Linked DNA regions of Homo sapiens. The protein of the gene in region 4 purifies or fractionates together with the protein of the main gene of each other region. This does not show direct contact. Each region holds a gene or a part of one and is shown on either strand. Other genes may lie near its edges.

Region 1 (3,281 bases), on a different chromosome or scaffold from region 4:
GACGCCCATCTTGCAGTGGACCAGCACGTGGGTGCCCTGTGCTCTGTGGAAGCAGGCCAGGTTCAGCACCCTCCCCTCACCATGAAGGATCCCGCCTCCTGCAGGGGAGGGCAGGTGAAGGGCTCACAACCAACTGAGAGTAGAGAAGGAGGGAAGGACACTGAGGGCTGGAAGGAATGGCACAGCTGATGGCAGAGTGGGCAGGAGGAGGGCACCGGAGGCCGCTTGAAGCCACAGTGGGGCAGGCAGCAAAGCCAGGAGACCGACCTTGCAGCCTCAATGAAGCGGTGCGTCTCCTTCCAGTGCGGCAGCAGCTGGGCCGACTCCTCATCCCAGAGGCGCACATTGTGGTAGGTGAAGCGCTCAGGGTAGAAGTTGTCAATCTCCCGGGCCATGTTCAAGATGTGGGTGACCCTGTCCCAGAGGGCCCAAGGCCAGGCTGATGTGGGCAGAGGTACCAGGCCCACTGGCAATCGGACCTGGCAGCCCCTGGGCCTCGCTTTAGCTCTGAGTTTCAAGTCAGATGGAGGCAGCAGTGACAGTGGGAGGAGAAGTGACCCAGCTGTCACCTGGCTGCGACCTTAGACCAATCATCTTGCCCTGCTGGGCTTGTTTCCCCATCTGGTCCAGACAGCTGGGCCAACTGCAACTCCAGCCCTTCAGTTATTCTCAGAAATGAGTTAGAGAACAGCTTTTGAGCTAAGCTGAGAGTGGGTGGGTCTGCAGCAGTGGGTGGCAGGGGCTACAGCAGGTCCCAGAAGCCCATGGTGGGCAGATGACAGGTACCTGTCAGAGCAGGCAGCCAGGTCCCCACGGGGAGAAGGGCAGTTCCTTCTTCCCTGAGACAGGGCAAGGTGGAGAAAAGGCTTTTTCTCTCTTTCTTTTTTCTTATTTTTTAGAGACAGGGTCTCTCTCTGTTGCCCAGGCTGGAGTGCAGTGGCGTGATCACGGCTCACTGCGGCCTCAATCTCCAGGGCTCAAGCGATCCTCCTGCCTCAGCCTCCCAAGTAGCTGGGCCCACAGGCGCATTCAAGAGGAGCCTTTTTCTGCTTGTCCAAGGCAGTTACAGCAGTATGCGCTGCTGCTTCTCGTCTTGGCGTGGCTGAGGCCCTTTGTTTCTGTCCTTGTTTCACAGTGTGGATGGGGGAGGAGAGTGGGCGGGGGCTGGCCAGCAGGTCTCCTGTCCCCACCTGGGAGCCCACACCAGGGCAACAGCCCCAGGACAGAGTTAGAAGCAGAGCTAGCAGCTGCTGAGGGTGGTCCAGGGGTTTTTGAAGCTGGCTACCACCCAATGCGGGGAGGCCAGGAGAAGGGAAGATGGGGTGGGTGGCCCGAGGGGCTCATAGCCCTACCTGTTCCTCTGCAGCTCCTCCAGGTTTGCTGCGTTCCACTCTGAGCCCTGGGAGAGAGGGAACAGCACATTTCTCCTCTCCTCCAGCCTCTGCTCCTGGCCTGCCGCCCTCACAGCTGCCAGCGGTCCCCATGGCCCAGGCCTGGCTGAAGCTCACCAGGTAGAGGTGGGGGAAGATGCGGGAGGCTCGGTCCCGCTGTGCCACCAGCAGCAGCATCTGGTTGTCGATGAAGTCACGGTACTGCTGGAGGGGGAGCCCCAGGCGCAGCTCCAGAGCCTGGCGGATCTGCAGGCAGAGCCCAGGGCAAGAGAGGCTGGGGCTCTCCTAGTGCCCAACCTGCCACCTTCCCTCTGGGACCTCTGAGGACAGCACCCTATCCCATCTAGATGGATTAGGGCCAAGGCCAAGGCATCCAGGAATGGCTCAGGACTGGAGACAGGCAAGGTGGGGAGGGCTCCCAGGAAAGGCAAGCTTGCAGCCCCTGCTAGAGGGGACTCAGTCCCCGGGCCCCCTGCCCACCTCTTTGGAAGTGACACTCTCCAGGTCACTGACATCCAACACTTTCCACAGCTCAGCACGGATCGCCTGCTCCATCTGCTCCTGTTCTGAGGACCTGGGAGCAGAGCCCCTCAGTCAAGGGGCCCTTTCCCCTCTCCACCATGCCCCCCACTGCATTATCCTGCCTTCCCCTCCACCCAGTCCCTCCCCTCCACACACTGACCCGCCAGGCTCGGCGCTGGGAGGCCGCAGAGACTCCAGGTCGGCCATAGCCGTCCACTCATTGAGGCAGCTCTGTTCGGAGTTCAGTCTCTCCTGGTAGTGGCTGGCCCAGGTGAGGGCACTGCCACCCGGTACAAGGCCGCTGCCTAGAGCTGCCTCACATGCTTGGTGCAATACCTGGAGTGTGGCCCTGAGACAGGAGGAGAGGCTGGGTCACACTGTTCCCTTGCTGCCCTTCCCCAGGCCCTGCAGCCTCCTTCGAAGGAGAGGCTGGCCTGAGTCCAGGCAGTCTCTGTCCTTACCACATGGTCTGGATGGAGATGGGCTTGAAGATCCGGCTTTGCCCACCAGACGTCACGCTGAAGCCCCTGCAGGAGACCAGGCACAGGTGAGGCCAGACTCCAGGCTCTGCGACAGAGAACCCATCCTTTTGCTGGATACGGGAAGCCGAGACCCAGGAGTCAGGTGCCTTGCTCAGGATCACGGTGAATCTGACGTGGAGCTGGGAGCAGGCCCCAGAGTCCCAGCCTAAAGTTCTACTGTACCCTGGTGCCCAGGCCCCGTCACATCCGTCACACTCAGTTATTCCACCCTCCAGCCCCCACCTCCAGTTGCCATTGCTTACCCGTCTCCATCTAAGTACACCTGGGTGTCACTCCAGAGGGGCAAGACCAGGCCCAGGGTGCAGCTGGGGGAGCTGGCAGGGGACAGAGGGAAAGCCATTGTCCCCCCTGTCCCTCACCTCTTTGCCCCTCCTTTCCTCTCCCTGCTCGAACCTGCTGTCAGGGAAATCCACGCCCAGGAGGACCGTCTCATCCTGGCTCAGACCTTCTCCTTCTCGTGTAGAAACTACCAGCAGGTAGCGGAGCCGGGGAGGCCGGGGTGCCTCCAGCTGGGCTGCCTGGGGGGAGATGAGGAACCCAGGGTCACAGTGGCCCCAAGGACCCTGCTCCCCACCTAGACACCCCAGGCCCAGAACAGTGCTGACCCTGCTCCTTCCTCTCCCATCCCCCCTCTTCCCAGATGTAAAATCAGTGGGTAAAGAGGGACTGTGTGGAAAAAAGCGGGGAATGGGACTGACATAGGTTGCACATTTTTTGTTTCTGCTGAGGAAGGAGGTTGTTTTTGTTTTTGTTTTGAGATAGGGTCTCACTCTGTCGCCCAGGCTGGAGTACAGTGGCACCATCACAGCTCACTGTAGCCCCGAAC
Region 2 (3,500 bases), on a different chromosome or scaffold from region 4:
ACCAGGAGCTGGGAAAAAAAAAACCGAACATCCCGCTCTTACTATGAGATTTTTCTCAGCAGTGGCCGCGGGCACTCACCTTTTTGAAGTGTGTGGCCGACTGCACCTTCCTCACGGGCTGCATGAGAGAGTCCCGCACGATGATGCTGATGTCCGCGCCCGAGTAGCCTTCCGTCTTCCGGGCCAGCTCGTGGATGTTTGCATCCGTGAGGTTGTGGGGAGTGCTCCCGAGATGCAACCGGAACATCTGGGCGCGGGCAGCTTCCTCCGGCAAGGGGATATAAATTCGTTTTTCAAACCTAGAGAGCCCAGCACACGGCAGGAGTTGACAGCGGATGATGGAATGGTATTCACGGAAGGGGAGGCACGAAGATTTGAGTGAAACGGACGCATTTCATGGGCCAGTGATGCTGGCGGCACATCCTCAACAAGCCAGCCTCACAAAGGGCTCTGCTTGGCAGGCAGACGGGAAGACTCCAGGGAAAAGGGGCCAGGCTGCACCCGGGCTGCCAGCAGCAGGCGGACCGTGACCATGGTGGGAGGAAGCCTCCAGCCCTGGCTTCTCCTGGGGAAGACTCACCTCCTCCTGATGGCCGAATCCAACACCCATGGGATGTTTGTGGCTCCAAGAACCAGAGTCCCATCATTGTTATTCCCCACCCCTGTGGAGAAAGGGAGACAAAGACTCAGACTCTGGACACCTGCACGGGTCAGTTGAAACCTGGGGACAGACCCCGGGGGCTTTGTGTGTCAGCAATTGAAGCCATCCCTGTGCCACCCACCACTGGCAGGGTCCCAAGTGAGATTAAACCACATCTTGGTCTGGCTGTGCCAGGTGAGACCTATGGCACTGCCTGCCATGGGAGGGGTGGAGTGGCCCGTGAGGCAGAGGCCTCAGGCACCTCTTGGGAATTGAAGTCCACCCGTGCCCTGAGGGGCTGGAGCTGGGGAGTGCCTCTCCGAGGCTGAGAACAACCAAATCCAGCCGCAGCTCAGAATAAAGCCCAGGGTTGGCTTCAGGTGCAACAAGAACCAAGGGGGCCCTGGGCCCGGCACACACCCTGCATCTGGACCAAGAACTCCGTTTTGATCCTCCGGGCGGCCTCACTCTCATTTTCATTTCGGGACCCGCAGAGGGAATCCACCTCATCGATGAAGATGATGGAGGGCTTGTGCTGCCTGGCCAGCTCAAACAGGTTCTTGACCAGCCTGTGAAGGTGAGAAAGGGGGTGAGGACAAGACGTTCACGTCCGTGCCCGCCTGGGCTCCCGGCACTTCCCTCTTCTCACCCTTCCCACAGGGAGGCGCAGGCCACGGTCATGCCGGAATTGCGGAAAACGTGGTGGTGAGGAGCCCTCGGGCCACACTGCACCAAGAGGAGGAGCACACCTTGGTGTCAGCCCCAAACGCAGAGCCTCAATCCCAGGAGCCCCATGCGCTAGCTCTGCACTTACAACACGTCAGTCCCCTTCTTCCGAGCCCGTCTCATCACACGCAAAACAGGAGTCAGTGTGGGGAACCATGTCCCCCACACACTGCCCCAACAGGGACCGCAACCCAGACCCCAAAAATATCCTCACTTCCTTTCCCTTCTCTTGTGGAGCACTTCACCTCTCCCAGGTCCCTTCCACCTTCACTTGTCTTTGTTGGGACTGTGTCCCAGCCGATAAGCTAGCGACACACTGCTCTTGGGTACCCTCCCTGAAAACCAAACCACTCCTCTGAGAGGTGACTCCACAGGGTGGGCCGCTGGGTCACTAGCAGTGCCGGGGCTGCTGGCAGAGCATGGCCTGGTGGCCGACTTACTTTTCACTCTCCCCCAGCCACTTGGACATCAGATCTGAGGAGGACACAGAGAAGAAGGTGGAGTTGTTGGCCTCTGTTGCCACGGCTTTGGCCAGGTAGGATTTCCCTGTGCCAGGGGGTCCGAACAGCAGAATCCCCCGCCAGGGGGTGCGCTTGCCTGCAACAGAGAACCACAGAAGTTAGGCCTCCTGACTGGGGAAAGGAATAGGAAAAGCAGAGGGTCTCGAGTCCCATACATACAGTAAAACAGGGCATTCTGTGAAACAACGGACTCTACTGGCAAACAAGTGATGGGAGCTACATTCCCTGCTGTGCCCTGTGCTATGACCCCATGACCTTGCACAGTGCCCCTGCTATGACCCCATGACCTTGCACAGTGACACCGGCTGGCACTGCTTCCTGATCCTGCCCCCACCCTGTGACGTGATCGTCATCTCATAGCTCCAGCCACAGCAGTGTTGTGGACACCAGCGAGCAGCCAGGCCTGGCCCTCTGCAGGCCCCGGGGGCTGAGTCGCCACTGACTCCCGGGTGCCTCGGAGTGCCAGCCCTGCGGAAGCCTGGAATTTTTACATTGGGGTTTGAAATGGCTCAACTCTCACCTGTGAACAAGTGTGGGAATTTGATTGGCAAAATGACAGCTTCTTTGAGGGCCTCCTTGGCCCCCTCCAGCCCGGCCACGTCGTTCCACCGTATGTTGGGCTTCTCCATCACGACGGCACCTGCGAGAGGGAGGCCGGCCCGGGCCCGGGCCCGGCCAAGGGGCATGAGCCAACCCAGCAGCGGACCCACTCTCATCCCCTGCCGCTGCCACAGGGCCGCGAGCCACTTACCCATCAGCTGTTCTTGCAGTTTCTTTTTCTCCGGATTATCCCCTTCACTGTCACTGTCACTGCTGGGAAGGGAGACGGAAAGTCACAAGCTGGCCCTTCAGCCTGGAGCACAGAGGTGCTCCCAGCAAGTCCAGGCTCCGCTGCCTGCACACTGGTTAAGGAACGAAGCCTTCCTGGCTTAACAGTGCCGTGTGACTCAAGCAAGTACTTCAGGGACATTTGGGCCAATGCTCTCAGCAGCTCACTTCAGGACCCCCCCAGCAAACACTCCTATAACCCGCCCTGTTTCTTCGCGGAGCAGATGGGAATCCGGGTCGGCCCTCTCCTGAAGGCCGTAAGGGAAATGTGCTTCAGCTGGACTTAAAGAGCAGCCCAGGCCAGGTGCGGTGACTCACACCTCATACTCTGGGAGGCCACCTGCAGTGGCTCTCACAGCCCAGGCTGGGTGCGGTGGCTCACCCCTGTAATCCCAGCACTCTGGGAGGCTGAGGCGGGAGGATCGCTTGAGCCCAGGAGTTTGAGACCAGCCTGGGAAACAGCGAGATCTTGTCTCTACAAAAAACACAAAATTAGCCAAGCATGGTGGCACGCACCTATGGTGCCAGCTACTTGGGAGGCAGAGGTTGCAGTTAACCAAGATCGCACCACTGCACTCCAGCCTGGGAGACAGTGAAGCCCTGTCTGGGGGAAAAAAAAAAAAAAAAGCCAGTCAAACAATGCAGCTGCCAGAAGCTTCTTTTTTTTTTTTTTTTTTTTTTGAGATGGTGCCCAGGTTGGAGTGCGATGGCACAATCTCCATCTCAGCTCACTGCAATCTCCGCCTCCCGGGTTCAAGTAATTCTCTGAATTCTCTGGCGTCAGC
Region 3 (3,500 bases), on a different chromosome or scaffold from region 4:
CCAATTATTCTCCATAAAACTTGGTCCCATTTTAAGTGGAGTCTCACTAAATGGTCTGTCCCTGAAACCAGTGAACGTCAGATGATGGGACCCCCTATACTTCTCTTTAGCATTTACCTCGAACACTGAATACCTACAGTGCTGGTCAGAAACAGGTGATTTAGGCATGTTCGGTTCCCTCCAGGAATCTAACAGGGGGACAGACAAGTCAGAGAGTAATGAGTGCTCTGGGGATATAAACGAAGCGCTCTATGAACAGAAGCGGCAGCAAGTCATTTGGAGGGTGGGGGGAGAATCAAGGAAGGCTTCATTCAGAGAGGACATTTAAGTAGGGCCTTGGAAGATTTTATTAATAACAAGGAATGGGAAAAAGGCATTCCAGGTAAGGGCACAGCATGAGCAAAGACAAGGAGCTGTGCAAAGCACACTGGGAGCTTCACAGAGAGATGCGGCTAAAATACACAGGGGACCACAGGGCAAACGGGCCAGAAGCTGGAACCAAAATTTAAACTAAGGCCCAGTGTTGAGAACACTGAACGCTATGGTTAGGCATTTGAATGTGTCCTTAAACAGCCAAAGGTCCTTGAGCACGGGTACCCAGGATAAAAAGCAGTAGGTAAGATGGACAGGACAGAAGAAAACACAGATGGGGCAGTGAAACAGGGTAACTCGCTTTGAACAGACCAAGTTTAAAGATGCTTGGGAACTTTAACTGGCACAACAGTGTGGCAAAGAAAGGGACAGACAGTTCTGCAGTGTAACTAACAAGACTTTGTAACCATCTGGGGGAAGGGAGAGGGAGGACAGTCAGAGACACTTCCCAGCAAACAGCAAGGCTGATCCAGACACCGTGCACAGGCGGGGGTGGGGCAGGCAGAGGGCAACCAGGCGGGGAGGGAGAGGCAGATTCCTCGGCAGCGGTTAGGAAAACTTCACCTACTATAGGGTCAAACTCTGACCTACAGGGGCCAGGCAGGTGACAAATGAACAAAGCTGGCTACTTCTAAGATAAATGGGACCATGAAGACTGTAGTATGGCCCACTGGAAACCACCACTCGGCTCTAGTGGATCGATGCCATGTGAGAATGCAGGCCCCAAAGGGCCAGATCATTTGAGTTTTCAAGAGAAGCCAAAAAAAAAAAAAAAATCAGATTAGTGAAATCTCCCAATTTTTACAGATTGTGTGTCATCCCACAAAACATTTTTCTGTGGACCAGATTTGGCCCTTGGGCCACGTGTTTGGGACCCCCAAATCTGTGTGCAACTGAAGAGCCACTGTTTGGTGGATCAGCCCTAAGATCAGACTGAAAACAATGAGGGAAAACGGTCCAAACAAAAGGCGAGCATCTAAAAGCAAATTTAAAAGCCAGAAGCAAGCAAAGCACAGTGGAGAGAGAGGTTTCAGAAGGAGGGGTGAAATCGCACTCTAAAATGTGAGTGCTGCTGGGTGCCAGAGGCAGGCAGTGGGCCAGCAAGGAGGCGAGGAAGAACATACCTTTAGTGCCAATCCACAGCTGGTCTTGTTCTAGTTTAAAGGTGAGTCTCACTTTTCCTCCAGATTTATTGTACATGCCGGACAGCGGTACCGTTGGCAGGCGCTCCTGAAGGCACGAGAGAATGGTAAGAGATGGAGGGACAGTCAGAAAAAAAGAGAAGGGGGCCAAGCGCGGTGGCTCACGCCTGTAATCCCAGCACACTGGGAGGCCAAAGCGGTCAGATCACCTGAGGTCAGGAGTTGGAGACTAGCCTGGGCAACATGGTAAAACCCCGTCTCTACTAAAAATACAAAAATTAGCCAGGTGTGGTGGCACACCCCAGCCTGGGTGACAGAGCAAGACTCTGTCTCAAAAAAAAAAAAACAGGGAAAAAAGAGAAGGGACAGGATTGGAGGAACCTCAAGTCAGACGGTGGGGCTGCCTCATTTTCAGAATGCTCACAAAGAAATCCGCCTTACCTGGGCCCCCTTAACAGATGGCATCACATCTTCAGGTTTTCCTTTATCCAACACTTTCCTGTGTTGCTATAAGTCAGAAGAGAGAATGAAATGAAACAGCTGACTACATTTCGTCGTGTTACTATTCCCTTGAAAGAGAGGATGAAGAAAGCCTTAGTGTTTTGGCTCAAAAGCTTTTAATGACGACAGACTATGGATCCTTTGAAACTATAGCACAGTGCTGTCCAGCAGAACTTTCTGGGAGGGCGAATATGTTCGTACCTGTGCTAGCCACTACCTACTGCTGTGACTATTACACACTTGAAATGCAGCTACTATGACTGAGGAACTGAATTCTTAATTTCATTTTAACCAGCCACATGTGGATAGCTACCATATTAGATATCAAAGTTCTACAGCAAACGGGATTTCCAGATTGCCCTCCTCCCCTCAAAAAAAAAAAAAAAAATCACCACTGAAATGATTAAACCATCAAACTAAAGAGGGCGACAAAGGGTGTTGCTCTCCTAGCAGACAAAAAATGGCACCCACCTTTTTCAACTTAAACTTCCAGAGAACACTATAAGATGCTGGTAATCCGTCTAACTGCCTAGGAGGAGCAGTTCTTCAACAAATGGAGACCCAGCCCATCGCCGAAGTTTTCCCCACTGCCCTACCCTTAACTCCAGCTAAACAGGAACCTGGAAGAGCCACCTTTCAGAAAGAAATGCTTATTACTCTATAACCTGACATTAAGAAGCCTCTAAACTCCACCCCTACCACCTGCCCCAAGAACTCTGAGGCAGCTCTTCAAGGATTCTAAGTTCAGGGCCCCTTAAACAGTTCTCCTGCCTGGCCCAAATGCCTGAGTCTTCTTTCTTCTCCATCTGTGGCCTTATAGGCATAGCCACTGCTTGGAAGGCTGGAACTAGGGGACAATGAATGGATAGAAGGTAACAATTTAATCAAATGTAAGCACTAGGCAGCCACAAGCCAGCCCAAATCCTCACTGGCATGGTGGAATCCCTCTGGGAGGAATAAACTCAGCACTGCCAGACTGCTAGCAAAAAGTCACTCCAGACATCACCCCCAGACCCCTTAATAAGCTGGTAAAAAGGCAAGGGACTATATCCCTCTCATTAGGTCATGTGATGCATCATAATTGGCCTCAATGAAACACAGCAGCATGGGCTGGAAGTACAATTCGAGTCACACCTTTCAAGTACCTTTTGAACAAGATTTCCTGTACTGTGGAGAACAGTTCTAAGCCTGTTAAGCTACCATTAGTAACTAAAAACCTGTATTTAGGAGGCATGTTATGCTCCAAGGGTGTGACCATTGCGACCACTCCTATCTGACGTGCTCACATTTCACTATTTCATACATGTGGCAAAGAAAAACAGGAATATGAGAAGAAACTCAATCGGTTTCAAGACACTGAGACCCCATATGTGGGGGTGAAGTCTCCAAATCAACACCTTTTAGATAATTAATATAGGTTTATAACCCCTTATCTGAAACCCTAGAGTTTTGAACTTTCAGGGTTTTGGAATTTTTATAAAGATA
Region 4 (3,500 bases):
GCACGTTCATCAGGTGCCGGGTACACTTACACAGTGACGGGGAACACCCCAGGGCTGGCCGTGAGGGTCATGCAGGCTGTGAATACCACCTGCTCACAGTGACCGTGGAGGGCGCAGTCATCTGAGCTCCACGCTGTAGGCAGGGTGAAGGTGATGTTTATCTCCTCGTGGGCTTCCCTGCCTATGAAAGAGAAATCATTTTTTTATAAAGTCAAGAACCACGTACTTGTCATTCTCTGGGATACAAATAAATCCTGAAATCAAACCCACACAGGAATCATCTATCAGCCCAGGCACCTGCCTTTGTGGGATCTGAGGAAGAAGAGCAGTCCTGACCCTGACCATGAGTCCTACTCAACTCAGAGCCACGAAGCAGCGAAGGAAGTGGCCACTTTCCAGTACATGGCCTGGAGATGCCAAACCAGACCTCGGGCAGATCAGAGATGAAAAGCTCGGGCTGGGTGAATTATCCCCAGCATTTCTGCACAGCTGTCTAGCCATTTTCAAACATCTTTTATATGTATTATTTCACTTAAAATTTACTACTCTCCCATGAACATGACTGAAGAAGTGCAGCTGTTCCCCTTTTACATATGAACAAACAGAGGTCAGAGGGTTTCAGAGTTAAGAAAGGCAAGTGATGAAGCTTAAACTAAAACCAACGTATTGCCAGGCACAGTGGTTCACATCTGTAGTCCCAGCACTTTGACTTTAGAAGGCTGAGGCAGGAGGATTGCTTGAGGCCGGGAATTCACGACCAGCCTGAACATGACAGCAAGATTCTGTCTCTACAAAAAAGTTTTAAAAATCAGCCAGGTGTACTGGTGCACACCTGTGGTCCCAGGTACTAGGGAGGATCACTTGAGCCCAGGAGTTTGAGGCTGCAGTGAGCTATGATCACACCACTGCACTCTAGCCTGGCGACAGATCAAGACCCAGTCTCAAAATTAAAATAAAATTTTAAATAAAAATTAAATTAAAATAAAAAATTAAAATATTAAAATAAAATTAAAATTAAAAAATAGCCAAGCGTGGTGGCTCATGCCTGTAATCCCAGCACTTTGGGAGGCTGAGGCGGGCGGATCATTTGAAGTCAGAAGTTCAAGACCAGCCTGGCCAACATGGTAAAATCCTGTCTCCACTAAAAATACAAAATTAGCTGGGCATGGTGTCACGAACCTATAATCCCAGCTACGCGGGAGTCTGAGGCAGAACAGTCGCTTGAACCCGGGAGACAGAGGTTGCAGTGAGCCAAGATTGTGCCACTGCACTCCAACCTGGGCGACAGAGTGAGACTCCATCTCAAAATAACAACAAAAAATCCCGAAGGTGTCCTTATGCCATGCCATAAGCAACAGGTCCACTTGCTACATGGAAAACCCAGAAGTCACCCATACCTTGATTATTATGGGAATATTCTCACCTCTAACAGCCAATAGGAGGCTGGTGGGCACTTAAATTCCTTGAAGGACTTTTTATTTGTTTCTTGTTTTTTTTTTTTTTTTTTTTTGAGACAGGGTCTCACTCTATTGCCCAGGCTGGAGTACAGTGGTACAATCTTAGCTCACTGTAGCCTCGACCTCCCAGGTTCAAGCAATCCTCCCACCTCAGCCTCACAAGTAGCTGGGACTACAGGTGCACGCCACAACACCTGGTTAATTTTTTTAATTTTTTCATAAAGACAGGTGTTTGCTATGTGCCCAGGCTGGGCTTCAACACCTGAGCTCAAGCAATCTTCCTGCCTCAGCCTCTCAATGTGCTGGGATTACAGGCATGAGCCACTGCATCTAGCCTAAGCAATTTTTAAAAAGCCTTTTGGTAACCAAAGAACAAAAGGTTATTCTTCCAAGGCCCAGGTGTCCCATATGAAGCCTTTCCTGATTATTCCAGCTTCCACTGCCTTCTAGCCCTTCTCCTGCAACACTTACAGTCTGTCATGGGTTTAGTACTGGTCAAAGGGCAGTGCTCCACATTTTATAAGTATGTATTTTTTCATATCCCTTATCAAGCACTTACGTAGCATTTCCTTTGTGGCAGGAACTATTGTAAGTGCTTGATAAACATTAACTCACGTTTATCTTTGTCTCTTCCATAACCCCAAAATTCCAAAAGGAAGAGACCAAATGTTAGGCCTTTTTTTTTTTTGAGGTGAAGTCTCACTCTGTTGCCTAGACTGGAGTGCAGTGGCATGATCTTGGCTCACTGCAGCCTCCGCCTCCAGGGTTCAAGTGATTCTCCCACCTCAGCCTCCAGAGTGGCTGGGATCACGGGCGCCTGCCACCACGCCTGGCTAATTTTTTTGCATTTTTAGTAGAGATGGGGTTTCACCATGTTGGCCAGACTGGTCTTGAACTCCTGACCTCAAGTGATCCACCCACCTCGGCCTCCCAAAGTGCTGGGATTACAGGCGTGAGCCACTGCGCACGGGCCCATCTTAGGCATTGTCTTTTCTTTTCTTTTTTTGAGATGGAGTCTCGCTCTGTCGCCCAGGCTGGAGTGCAGTGGTGCAATCTCGGCTCACCGCAACCTCCACGTCTTGGGTTCAAACAATTCTCCTGCCTCAGCCTCCTGAGTAGCTGGGACTACAAGTGCGCACCACCATGCCTGCATGCCCAGCTGACTTCTTTTTTTTTTTTTTTGGAGAGAGAGTCTCCCTCTGTCGCCCAGGCTGGAGCACAGTGGCATGAATCTCAGCTCACTGCAACCTCTGCCTCCTGGGTTCAAGCTATTCTCCTGCCTCAGCCACCCGAGTAGCTGGGACTACAGGTGCCTGCCACCACGCCCGGCTAATTTTTGTATTTTTAGTAGAGACGGGGTTTTGCCATATTGGCCAGGCTGGTCTCAAACTCTTGACCTTGTGATCTGCCCACCTTGGCCTCCCAAAGTGCTCGGATTACAGGCGTGAGCCACCGCGCCCGGCCAATTTTTTGTATTTTAGTAGTGATGGGGTTTCACCATGTTGCCCACGCTGGTCTCAAACTCCCGAGCTCAGGCAATCCACCCACCTCGGCCTCCCAAAGTGCTGGGATTACATGCATGAGCTACTGCACCCAGCCATCTTAGTCATTTTCTAGTTCTTCCCAGCAGCTTAGCACAGTGCCAGACTAACAATGGCCATTAAAAAATATGTAAACTAATAGCAATAGAAGATGTGTAGTAAGTAATGAAAACTCCAACAGGACAAGCCTGAATTAAAATTACATGTTTGTAAATATTAGACAGGCCTTAACAGTTTTCTCACAGTTTCTCATTCCTACAGGCTTTTGAGAAACTACTTCTAGCCAGGTACTTTACCATGTAACGATGGAACAGAAATGGTTCATGTAGTTCAAACTCAACAAAAAAAAGACACGCGCAAGACTACAATCTAGTACAATATAGTCAGTAAAAACATACACGGTGCATCCTCTTTTTGTAACAGTGGTTGCCTAAGGAGCCTGAGTGGAGAGTGGCTACTGCATACCTGAAAGTCCAATCTGATGCCCTAAGATGGTTGAGTA
Region 5 (3,500 bases), on a different chromosome or scaffold from region 4:
TAATATATTTCTATACTATATGTATCGAATATATAATAAAATTATAATATGGTCTATTGTATATACCTATATATTCATAAAAGCATAATTCTGTGTTGCTTTTTTAATCATAAATTCCTTGAAAGTATGAATAGGAATAGTGCCTTTTTTCTATGCTTCTTTAATATTCTTAATGCAGTGTGTTCAGAGTAACAAATGCAGCTATTGCCAGACTGATTAAATACTGTTATAAGAGAAAGAACTTCCTCATCTCTTGTCCCTCAATTTTTGTTTTGTATAAGACTGCAAATCTGTGCTGAGGCTGGAGCCAAGTTCAAAAACAAGTGTCTTTCATCCTCTCGCTTTTCTTGTACCTTTCTACCTCACTCTGGGTGAGTATTCCCACTCTACCCACAACCCAAACCACAGATAGTGGATGCTTACCAGTTCATTTCGAGGGCGAAAATTTTCATCCACGGAGACAACACGGAATCTTACTGGAAAAGTAGTTCTCCGATAAGATTCAGACATGATAAAGCAGGTAATTTGGGTAATAAGACAGGAGGCTACGGGGCTAGGATAATGGAGACTTTGGCTGTTCAGGTGGCCCTTCTCAGTGTTGCCCCAAACAGTGGAATTTCCCTACTTACCTGTCTGTCCTGGTTTATACATGGGTTTGTCTGTCTGGACAAAGACCAGACTTTGGGTGTTCAGTACCAGAACTGTGTTCCTCTTCCTGAAATCTTGCGTAGGCCCCTTTATCTGGATGCTAAGGAATGCCACCTCTGAAGAGGCTGAGATCCTTGGGAGCTAAAAAGCAAAGGATTTTTTACTACTGAGGAACTGTGCAGTCTTCTCCCTCTGCATTCTTCAGTCATTGCTATTTCCTATCTCTCCTTCAGCTTCACCAAGGAGAAGGAAGGTGTGACTATTTCTTCAGACATAAGAGTGACGATATTAATGTGAGATGGAGGAATGGTATCAGTAAGAGTGGCCATCAATAGAACCCAGATCTCCATGGAGTTCACCTAGAGCTCTAGTTATTAAATTAGATGCCTTTTAACTGAGTATGTATATTCTGAAGCAATGGAGAGAAACATCTCTGAAAAAATATGGGAGAGCATAGGAGCTGAGTTTCCCAAGTTAGGCAACTTTAAAGAGGTACTAGGTGTTTGCTTAGGGTATCCTGCATGTGCAAAAAATTATGTTGCATGCAAAGTTTTTATCATGAAATTTTCATATGATCTATTTCTAGGAAATGTCCAGCCCGATCCTTAAAGAGACAGTTACAATCAAAACTAGAAAACTCCTCTAAGTCATGAAATTTTTGTGGGCAATAGGATTATTATTTAGGAATGAAATTTAGAAGAGTATTTCTTCCTTACTCTGGTAAAAAATGCTTTGTTCCTTAATAGTTGAAAACTCACTATTTTTAGTCCTTTCTGAAGTCCTAACTACATTCCTTTTTTTTTTTTTTTTTTTTTTGAGACGGAGTCTCGCTCTGTCGCCCAGGCTGGAGTGCAGTGGGGCGATCTCGGCTCACTGCAAACTTCGCCTCCCGGGTTCACGCCATTCTCCTGCCTCAGCCTCCCAGGTAGCTGGGACTACGGGCGCCTGCCACTACGCCCGGCTAATTTTTTGTATTTTTGGTAGAGACGGGGTTTCATCTTGTTAGCCAGGATGGTCTCGATCTCCTGACCTCGTGATCTGCCCGCCTTGGCTTCCCAAAGTGCTGGGATTACAGGCGTGAGCCACCGCACCTGGCCCCTGAAGTCCTAACTACATTCTTAAAGTCATACCTTGGGATCGCACACCAGAGCTCCATCACCATGACCTATAGAGCTCAATAAAATGTATCAAGCAGGGATAGCCAGCTGGCACCGTAGCACTCACAGTGAAGGAGACACAGTGGAATAAGTCCTTCTCCGCCACCAGGTCAGTGAAGAGGCTCCTGTTTTCCCTGCCAGACTCCAAGGAAGCACTTACAGTCACTGTCTCATTCAGGTGGCTCAGAAGGACACAGCCCTTCTTAGGGGCCTCAGTGTGGAGCAGGGAGGGGACCAGCACCATATACTGCCTGGGAAAGGAAGAAGTCTAAATTAGAGAAAAACTGATGATAGTAAGCGTTTTCATCCATAAATGTGTTTTCATAACAATATGTATTAATTGGTGCAATCAGTTTTATTCTAAAAGTCAATGGACTAAGTCAATGGAGGTTCTGTCACAGATCAGCACAAAAATTTTATCTTTTACTCATCAGCCATGCCTCAGCCACACAATCTGGAGCCATACAACACTGGAGATTGCTTTCCAAGATGTTACAATTTCACAGGCATTCCTTGCTGTAAAGAGCAGTCTGAGCTCTTTAAACTTTAACTTTGACCTTTAAAAAGAATCTGAATTCTTGAATATATATCCATAAAAGTGCACGCACACAAACACACACACATATATAAAAAATTGGGAGTGATTATTCATTGTAAAAAGGACTTACATTAAAATCTGTCTAGATAAACATCACTTTGGAATGAACACCGTGACTAGATTTACAGAAATTCAACTGAAAGAACTTCAGTAAGCATATATCATTACACAAAATAACACATGTCTATATTGCAAAATCATTTTCTTAATATCAGCAACACTGAAAAAAAGTATTTGCTGTTTCTCTTAGGCTCCTCAGATACAGCTCAGTCAAAGTCAATATTTTATCAACGAGTTTGAAAATTTTGTCAATTATTTACATGCACAACTCCCTGCTACACACACACTACACAAACACACACTGTATTTTATTATCATTTCCCTTTATGCTCAATTTCTTGAGGCAATTAACATTAATAATTTAATATTAGTATGTCCATGTTTATAAACATGTTTGTTTCGAATCACATGGGTGGATAGGTTATCTTTTCAATAAAAAAAAACAAACAGGTTCAGGCTGGGAGAAGTGGCTTATACCTAGTTCCCGGCACTTTGGGAGGCTGAGGCAGGAGAGTCACTTGAGGCCAGGAGTTTGAGAACAGCCTGCACAACATTGTGAGGTCCCCCATCTCTACAAAAATTAAAATAAAAAATTTAGCCAGGTGGCACATGGCTGTAGTAGCAGTTACTCAGGAGGCTGAGGCAAGAAGGATCACTTAAGCCCACGAGGTTGAGGCTACAGTGAGCTATGATTGCACCAGTGCTTTCAGAGTGACAGAGTGAGACCCTGTTTCAAAAAAAAACAAAACAAAGTTTATATGAGTACTAAAAGTCATATTATTTTGAAAAGTCTTTTCTTTTTTATTTAAATTGTTGAAAGTTTTCAGTTTTTCAGAGGCACAGGCAATTTTTTGTGTAAGCCTCACATTCTGGCCTTAGCTTTATTGATGAGTGTCCTTTGTCTCTAATGCCCCCCACTCCATATTTTCCTGTCACTTTCCAGAAGCCTCCAATTCAATATAATCTCTCCACACTCTGAAATCCCATGGGCTGAAAGAGAATGTGTTTTTGTTGTTGCTGTTTTTGAGCATCTGCCA
Region 6 (3,099 bases), on a different chromosome or scaffold from region 4:
GTGAGCTGGGCTTGCATCCTTTAAAACAAATGATATTCAGAGTTGTAGCCTTTGACACTGTTTCTAAAGCCTATCACCAAGAACAGCAAGAGATTCCTAGAATGTATTCTCCAAACTGACACAAATGCTTTTTGAATTACTGGGAACATGACTCTTCTTTAGTAGCACCAAGGCATGAGAACGAATTATCATTTTTTTAAAACCATTTACTGTGCTCCCTTGGTGATTTCCCCTGGCCTGGCCCCAACTCAGGAGTATAAAATGAACTGAGCTGGAAGAAAAGGACTAACAGGGCCAGGCCATGGGGAGAGGGGAGGGGGCTGGGTTGCTAGGTTACTACTAGAGCCAATCCAAGTGGTCCCAGAGGGGTACCAGATACAGGACAGGTCCTTCTCTCTGCCCCCACTAAGTTGAGGGCCCTCTCAGAGGAAGGGGGTCAAAAGGTGGGGGAGGGAGTCCAATCACTCACACTAGGCACAAGTAAAGAAATGAGGCAGAAGCACAAAGAAACAGACAGCCCTGTATTTCTAAAACCATTCAAGGCTCCTTCATTAATTGGCTTCCCCCCAAAAGAAAGATTTCTTTATTAAGAAATACCAGAGAGTGAAAAACCCCCAACACATACACATTTGTAGGCTCACACAAAAGTGCAGAGATTTACATATTAAATTGCATTTAAATTAGAAAATAGATTTAAAAACAAAATACTTTTTTTCTCCAACAAAGTAAAGAGATTTGGTCAGTAGGAACGGGTGCTTTATGGGTAAAGGCAGGATGGTCAGGACAGGGAGAATGGAATTTAGCTGCTACGGAATCAGAATCCACCTCTAACCCAACCTCACTCCTGGGGTAAAAGCAAAGGAGGAGATGATGATCTCAGCTAGGGCCAGGAAGGCCTCAGAGCTGAATGGACATGAAGAAATGGCTCACCACAGCCAATTTCCACCTGCCCCCAGAGGTTTGGGATCAGTGCCAACCATCCTGGCCTGGGAAAGTAGGGTGCATAGGAAGCTTGAGGAAGAAGGAGGAAGGGGAGAGTTGGAGACAGTGTCAGCCATTGAAAAGACCAAACAATTTAAGGCCCTTTTCCCCTGGGAACATTGATTCTTTAATCTCCCCTCTGATCAGATAGGGACAGTCCCAGCTGGTGCATGGTATGAATGGGACAGATCTTCAGGCCAACATCTTAAACATGGAAGATTTATTAAGGAAAAGAAAGAGGGCAGGGAGTATGAAAAAGCAGAAAATCATTTCACACTAGAGATAAGAGATTTCCACTTTGACCCTTCCCATCAGAAAGAGAAAGCTTCTCTGTCTGACCTAAGGGTCCTCAGGAGAACACTTGAGGTAAGGTGAGGGAGGAGAGAGAGCCATCTGAGCCCAGGAGAGGAGATGGGCTGAGTACTTATTAAAATGGGGTTCATATGAGTGCCAAGTTACCTGGGGAAACCTAACAACTTACAAATTCTCCAGGTTTGGCTTTATAACTTCAAGAAAAAAAACTGAGAGAACCAGAAAAAGAAGCAGACAGGAGAGGGATCTGAGTCAGTCTCTCCCCATCTCTCTTCCAATCTCTCTCTCTCTCTCTCTCTCAAGAATGCTCAACTTAAATCCTGTTAAAAGGAAAAAGGAAGACATGGAAAAAGGTCTGGGAGCAGCCAAATTTCATTAATTCCAATTAACTGGGAAGTATGAGATGGGAATTGATAGGGAGTCTTGATTATACACCACCTAGAAAGAAATATATACCATCACTTGTAAAAGACCACTGATCAAATATTTCCAAGGGGGGGCCCTGATGAGCCTGCGTTAATAACTAAGACTTATTAGCAATTAACGGCATCCATCTGCTTCAAAACAATATCCTAATATAGAGCTTGTTCTCTTAAGTAAATATAATCCCTCTACCTTCCTGATCCTGTTCACACTATATCTCCTTGAAAGTCCTTTCTTCATAGTCCAGAATAAGAAAACCTTCAGCCCAGAATGTAGTATAGATCAATGGAGAGTTTGGAACTACCTCTCCAACCCAAGGGTGCCCTGGTTAATGGAAGTTTGGGGAGTAACAAGCAACCCCTTCCAACCCCCACCCCCACCCTACACACAAACATATTCTTGAAATGGAAGGGGGAAGGAGGAGGCAGGAAGTTTGCATTAGACACAGTTTAATCGCCTTCAAATAGATGAAAAGTTCTGGTTTACACTCCCCCACCGCATAAGTCATCCAGACAGGACCCTGGCTTAGAAAGAGGAAAACACAGGTGCTCTAGGAAATATAGCCACATATAATACATAAATCTTCTTCCCTGAAATAGAGCAGGTCCTGAGCAGAGCTGACTGGGGGCCACAGCCCACCCCCAGGGTGAAGTGGCTCTGGGACTCTGCCGGTGGAAGTGCTGGAAGAGCGGGGCTTGGAGGAAGCCCCCAGTGTGGTTACCATAGCCAGAGGTGGGCCGAGGCCTTAGGGTGAGTTACCCGAGAGGGCAGCAGTGCTGGGCTTTCCCTCACTCAGCCGAGGCTTAATGGAAGAACTGGTTAGCATTTTTTTTTTTTTGAGGGTACATCGGGGGAGAGGAGAGGAGAGGAGAGCCTCTCTGTGCCTTGGTTTCCCATTTGTGCATTCAGGGCCTCTGCAGGCCTCACACAGGGAGTCTGAGGGGATAGTGTTTAAGTGAGCACTCAGGCTTCCTCTGAGGAAAAGAAATGACCAAAGTGCAGACTTTTATTACTGCCATTCCTGCTCCTAATGGGAGCAGGAGTCAAAAGGAAAAACAAATTAAAAGGGGCTAATGAGAAAGGAGGAGAGATGAGACAGAGAGTGTGAAGGGCTATGCCGCTGGCATCTCATAAATTCTTATTGAGAATGGCACAGGTATTAAAAAAGTTTCTGGGTAGTCTACGAGAAATGTCAATTATTATCTCTACTACAACTACTTACATATATCTAATGGGAAAAGAGTGGGGCTTAGGTGTCAGAGTGGATGGGAGACAAAGGAGAAGCTACACTAATAAATACAACAAGTGGAAGGTACCTGTCCCATTCCTAAAAGGATTTGTGGGCAATGCTGGCACTTGGTGGCCAGGAGAATCTTCTGACCC
Region 7 (3,500 bases), on a different chromosome or scaffold from region 4:
TCTTAGGGACAGGGATGATAAAAATCATGCAGTGCATGAATTACTTCTGCTTAAAATAGAACTACCCTGCCTTAAATTCCCAAACTCCTTCTATTGATAAATACTGCTTTAGAAAACTCTAGGCCATATTCTTTATAATACAATTTAATAAACATAAAAAAGTTATGGAACAGCATTGCATTTCAACTTTATGTTAGGTATGTGGAATATAAATACTTGTAAGATACAGTCTCTGCTCTCTAGAAGTGCAGTCTACTTCGGAAGACAGGTAGAAAGCTACTAACTTTTAAAGGTAAATAATTATCTCCAAATTACACTATTTAGGCTGCACGCTTTCAAATAAGGAATTTGTTTGAAATAAGGTATACATGTCCTAAATAAAATCATGCCTCTGATATGGCTCTATGATAAATGCACCTGATGAGATGTGACAAATGCCTGATGAGAGGCTGAATCATAAAGACAATGACATCTAAAAACAGTAATATAATGTTTCCTCTATACTAAGGTCATGTGCATACTATATGCTAATTTAAGATATTTCTCCCTAAGTTTTAAATGGTATGAAATTTATAGATTTTTTAATACATTTCTATGTAATTTTTTAATAAAAATTTGTATAAAAATGGGGATTTTTATAAAACCTTTATTATCCCTAATAGTCAAAATCGTTATGCAACTTACCTGTGCCATCCGTAGTTCTGCTAACAGATCTGTAAAATTCTGATTTCTTGTGGGCTCTGAATCTTCAACTACTTGAGACAGAAAACGACTTTTGTGCATCTGTTCTCTAATTTATTTTGAAAATAAAAAGTTGTTTTTCTTTCTTACCAGGTGCTCCTTTCAGTAGAAAATATTCAATTCTTAAAAATTAAAAACTAACATACATTGAAACTGTATGCATAAATGAAGGTAAAATTTTCATTTAATCTAAAGATTAAAATACTACCATACTAAAAGAGAAATATACTTTAAGGGAAATGCTTATATCTATTCTAAAAGAACTGAAACCTAAGATTATTGGTTTATTTATAATATAAAAATATTAATTCCCAATTCTCAGAGGAAAAAAATTAATCGTCTACAAAGATGCGCTGCATTTTTCTGTGGGGTTGTTAATGCAGTCCTTGTCATATTGTTCTAGAATCTTTTCTGAGAGTCGCCAGTCTCATACATGGAAACTAACAAACAAAACCAAACACAGCCTAATATCTGGACTTTAGATTCAATTTTCCTGTTATTCCAGAGATATTATAGAAGGAGTTTTGGATTCCACATAAGATCATCTAACCCTAATGTACTAAAGAAACCATTTATTTCATTCTGAAAGTTAATTTACAGCTTCAATTTTGGATCCTGGGATAGATCTTCTTTTAGAAGCCAAGTAGTACAAGATAAGATATTTTAAAATAACTTTACTGAAACATCTGGGAAAAAAAGCATAAGTAGGCCAGGCACGGTGGCTCACGCCTGTAATCCCAGCACGTTGGGAGGCCGAGGCAGGTGGATCACGAGGTCAGGAGATAGAGACCATCCTGGCTAACATGGTGAAACTCTGTCTCTACTAAAAAATACAAAAAATTAGCCGGGCATGGTGGCGGGTGCCTGTAGTCCCAGATACTCGGGAGGCTGAGGCAGGAGAATGGCATGAACCTGGGAGGCAGAGCTTGCAGTGAGCCGAGATTACGCCATTGCACTCCAGCCTGGGTGACAGAGCGAGACTCCGTCTCAAAAAAAAAAAAAAAAAAAAAAAAAAAAAGCGTAAGTAAATGCATTCATGCATTACCACTGTGCAGATTATCACACATGGCCTGGGGTTACACTTACCAACTTACAAGGAGAAAGAGGATATATATATATAGTCTGCTACCAAGTGTGTCTTTTTCTATTTTGCCTGACAGATCAGTATGAGCTATTATTAGCAGCCCTGCCTCTTAGGCCCTAGGTTATATAACCAAAAAGGGGGAGAAGTATATAAATAAATTCAGTAAACATTCATGATACTCATGGGTCAGAAACTTCTGAGAACAGTCCTTTCTGAGTGATTAGGTGTTTACATAAAAAGATACACAAATAGTGGTCATTTTCTAAAAGAAGATAGTATGCTAGCTTGTCCATGTTCACGGGCCCAGCTTTTTCACTTAATATGTTAAAGTTGGAAGCAGTAACGTCCAAAAGACCTTATAGTCTGAAATATGATTCCTAAGTAGGTGCTGGTGCTCCATAACCCTGCCATGATAAATGCTGGCTGAAAACAACTTACAGGTGCTCCTTTAAACCGCAGCCCCTGACCCGGCATAAAGGGCAGCCCCTACTCCTTTCCACAGTACACTCCGGCCAGTGACTAAGGCTGCCCCCTTGCCTCAAGCAGGGACCAACTCTGGTACAATTTATTCTCCAGAGCTTCTTGGGAGGAGAATGAAGCCAGTCTCCAGCTGAGACCACTATTTGCCCTCCCCCTACCTCACCGTTCCTGCTTCCCTTGCTCCCTTCTCCTGGGAGTTATCCTTCAGTATATCATCTCCACAAGGACCTCCACCATCTCAGGCTCTGCTTCTATGGAACCTGACCCAAGAAGATCATAAGTGATACTGTATGACCATTCTTTTTTAGTATTATTAATCAAATGGTTCCTTGGGAAATGGTTAATTATCTCATTCTTAATGACTGATCAAGAGGAATACTATATATTCAATTTCCTGAAACTGATGTTTGAATCAGTTATGAACATAAATTCATATGAATTCAAATATGAATATGCTGAAAATACTATCAAGTATGTGCTGGCCATCTAACACCAAAAGAAAAATCCACTGAGTATTAAACATAAAATTGGAAATGTGTACAAATAAAAATAAAATTTTACTATGTCTAAGTAAAAATAAATGTATTATTAACATAATAAGAAAATGCTTGAAATAGTCTAAGTATATTTGATTTTAAGAAGTTCAAAAGGACTTACTTTAAGGAAGCTACCTCACTGAATAAACTTTGGTTTTCCTTAAACATTCGCTCCTCATTTTTCTTGTTTTGTTCTTGGAGATCTTTTACTTGATTATATAATCGTTCATTTTCCTTTTTAAAAACAGAAAACTGCATTTTAGTTAAAAGTCATTAGTACTTATATAACATAATATATGTGCTCATAATAGATTAATCCTTTAAACGGCCTTTTAAGTTTCTTTAGCTTTTGCGTATGTAAAGTCTTTTTTAAACTTTTTATATTATATCTGAAGAAAATTTGGTGTCTAAAAACAGTTCTTTCCATAACATTTAAAATGGCTAATTGAAAAAATAATTTGCAAAATTCCCAAAGCCAAAGGGCCTAAGGTCAGTTTAATGCACTGCATTTCACAGGAGGTAAGTGGGAGAGTGGCTGAAGGAATCACCACATCCTGACTGTGTGGACCCGGGTGGAAAGACCCAGTGAGACCCTTTACATTCTTTTCTGTTTCTGGCTCAAGAGAGGGGAAAAAAAAAATCACTGCTGGAGGAAGATT

Evidence for each region.
Region 1: the proteins of TMEM248 (region 4) and SSH3 purify together in Homo sapiens (affinity purification with mass spectrometry; one large-scale study listed by BioGRID and IntAct). This does not show direct contact.
Region 2: the proteins of TMEM248 (region 4) and VPS4A purify together in Homo sapiens (affinity purification with mass spectrometry; one large-scale study listed by BioGRID and IntAct). This does not show direct contact.
Region 3: the proteins of TMEM248 (region 4) and UBFD1 purify together in Homo sapiens (affinity purification with mass spectrometry, with the first as the bait; one large-scale study listed by BioGRID). This does not show direct contact.
Region 5: the proteins of TMEM248 (region 4) and PZP purify together in Homo sapiens (affinity purification with mass spectrometry; one large-scale study listed by BioGRID and IntAct). This does not show direct contact.
Region 6: the proteins of TMEM248 (region 4) and ZDHHC9 fractionate together in Homo sapiens (co-fractionation; one large-scale study listed by BioGRID). This does not show direct contact.
Region 7: the proteins of TMEM248 (region 4) and CEP162 purify together in Homo sapiens (affinity purification with mass spectrometry; one large-scale study listed by BioGRID and IntAct). This does not show direct contact.

What each region holds. Positions count from the first base shown.
Region 1 is NC_000011.10:67,306,530-67,309,810, reverse strand, and holds part of SSH3 (protein phosphatase Slingshot homolog 3), read right to left. Parts: intron 2,974-3,281; coding exon 2,849-2,973; intron 2,770-2,848; coding exon 2,698-2,769; intron 2,441-2,697; coding exon 2,375-2,440; intron 2,263-2,374; coding exon 2,074-2,262; intron 1,966-2,073; coding exon 1,872-1,965; intron 1,638-1,871; coding exon 1,509-1,637; intron 1,400-1,508; coding exon 1,353-1,399; intron 415-1,352; coding exon 268-414; intron 44-267; coding exon 1-43. UniProt on the Homo sapiens protein: Protein phosphatase which may play a role in the regulation of actin filament dynamics. Can dephosphorylate and activate the actin binding/depolymerizing factor cofilin, which subsequently binds to actin filaments and stimulates their disassembly.
Region 2 is NC_000016.10:69,317,850-69,321,349, reverse strand, and holds part of VPS4A (vacuolar protein sorting-associated protein 4A), read right to left. Parts: intron 2,701-3,500; coding exon 2,639-2,700; intron 2,528-2,638; coding exon 2,408-2,527; intron 1,964-2,407; coding exon 1,807-1,963; intron 1,210-1,806; coding exon 1,061-1,209; intron 663-1,060; coding exon 581-662; intron 300-580; coding exon 80-299; intron 1-79. UniProt on the Homo sapiens protein: Involved in late steps of the endosomal multivesicular bodies (MVB) pathway. Recognizes membrane-associated ESCRT-III assemblies and catalyzes their disassembly, possibly in combination with membrane fission.
Region 3 is NC_000016.10:23,560,727-23,564,226, reverse strand, and holds part of UBFD1 (ubiquitin domain-containing protein UBFD1), read right to left. Parts: intron 2,022-3,500; coding exon 1,956-2,021; intron 1,603-1,955; coding exon 1,497-1,602; intron 189-1,496; coding exon of another isoform or gene 118-188; intron 1-117. UniProt on the Homo sapiens protein: May play a role as NF-kappa-B regulator.
Region 4 is NC_000007.14:66,945,225-66,948,724, reverse strand, and holds part of TMEM248 (transmembrane protein 248), read right to left. Parts: coding exon 3,464-3,500; intron 182-3,463; coding exon 31-181; intron 1-30.
Region 5 is NC_000012.12:9,201,896-9,205,395, forward strand, and holds part of PZP (pregnancy zone protein precursor), read right to left. Parts: intron 2,057-3,500; coding exon 1,873-2,056; intron 790-1,872; coding exon 630-789; exon of another isoform or gene 511-629; coding exon of another isoform or gene 477-510; coding exon 424-476; intron 1-423. UniProt on the Homo sapiens protein: Is able to inhibit all four classes of proteinases by a unique 'trapping' mechanism. This protein has a peptide stretch, called the 'bait region' which contains specific cleavage sites for different proteinases.
Region 6 is NC_000023.11:129,802,788-129,805,886, forward strand, and holds the end of ZDHHC9 (palmitoyltransferase ZDHHC9), read right to left. Parts: 3' UTR 501-3,099; downstream 1-500. UniProt on the Homo sapiens protein: Palmitoyltransferase that catalyzes the addition of palmitate onto various protein substrates, such as ADRB2, GSDMD, HRAS, NRAS and CGAS. The ZDHHC9-GOLGA7 complex is a palmitoyltransferase specific for HRAS and NRAS.
Region 7 is NC_000006.12:84,168,644-84,172,143, forward strand, and holds part of CEP162 (centrosomal protein of 162 kDa), read right to left. Parts: intron 3,076-3,500; coding exon 2,963-3,075; intron 791-2,962; coding exon 685-790; intron 1-684. UniProt on the Homo sapiens protein: Required to promote assembly of the transition zone in primary cilia. Acts by specifically recognizing and binding the axonemal microtubule.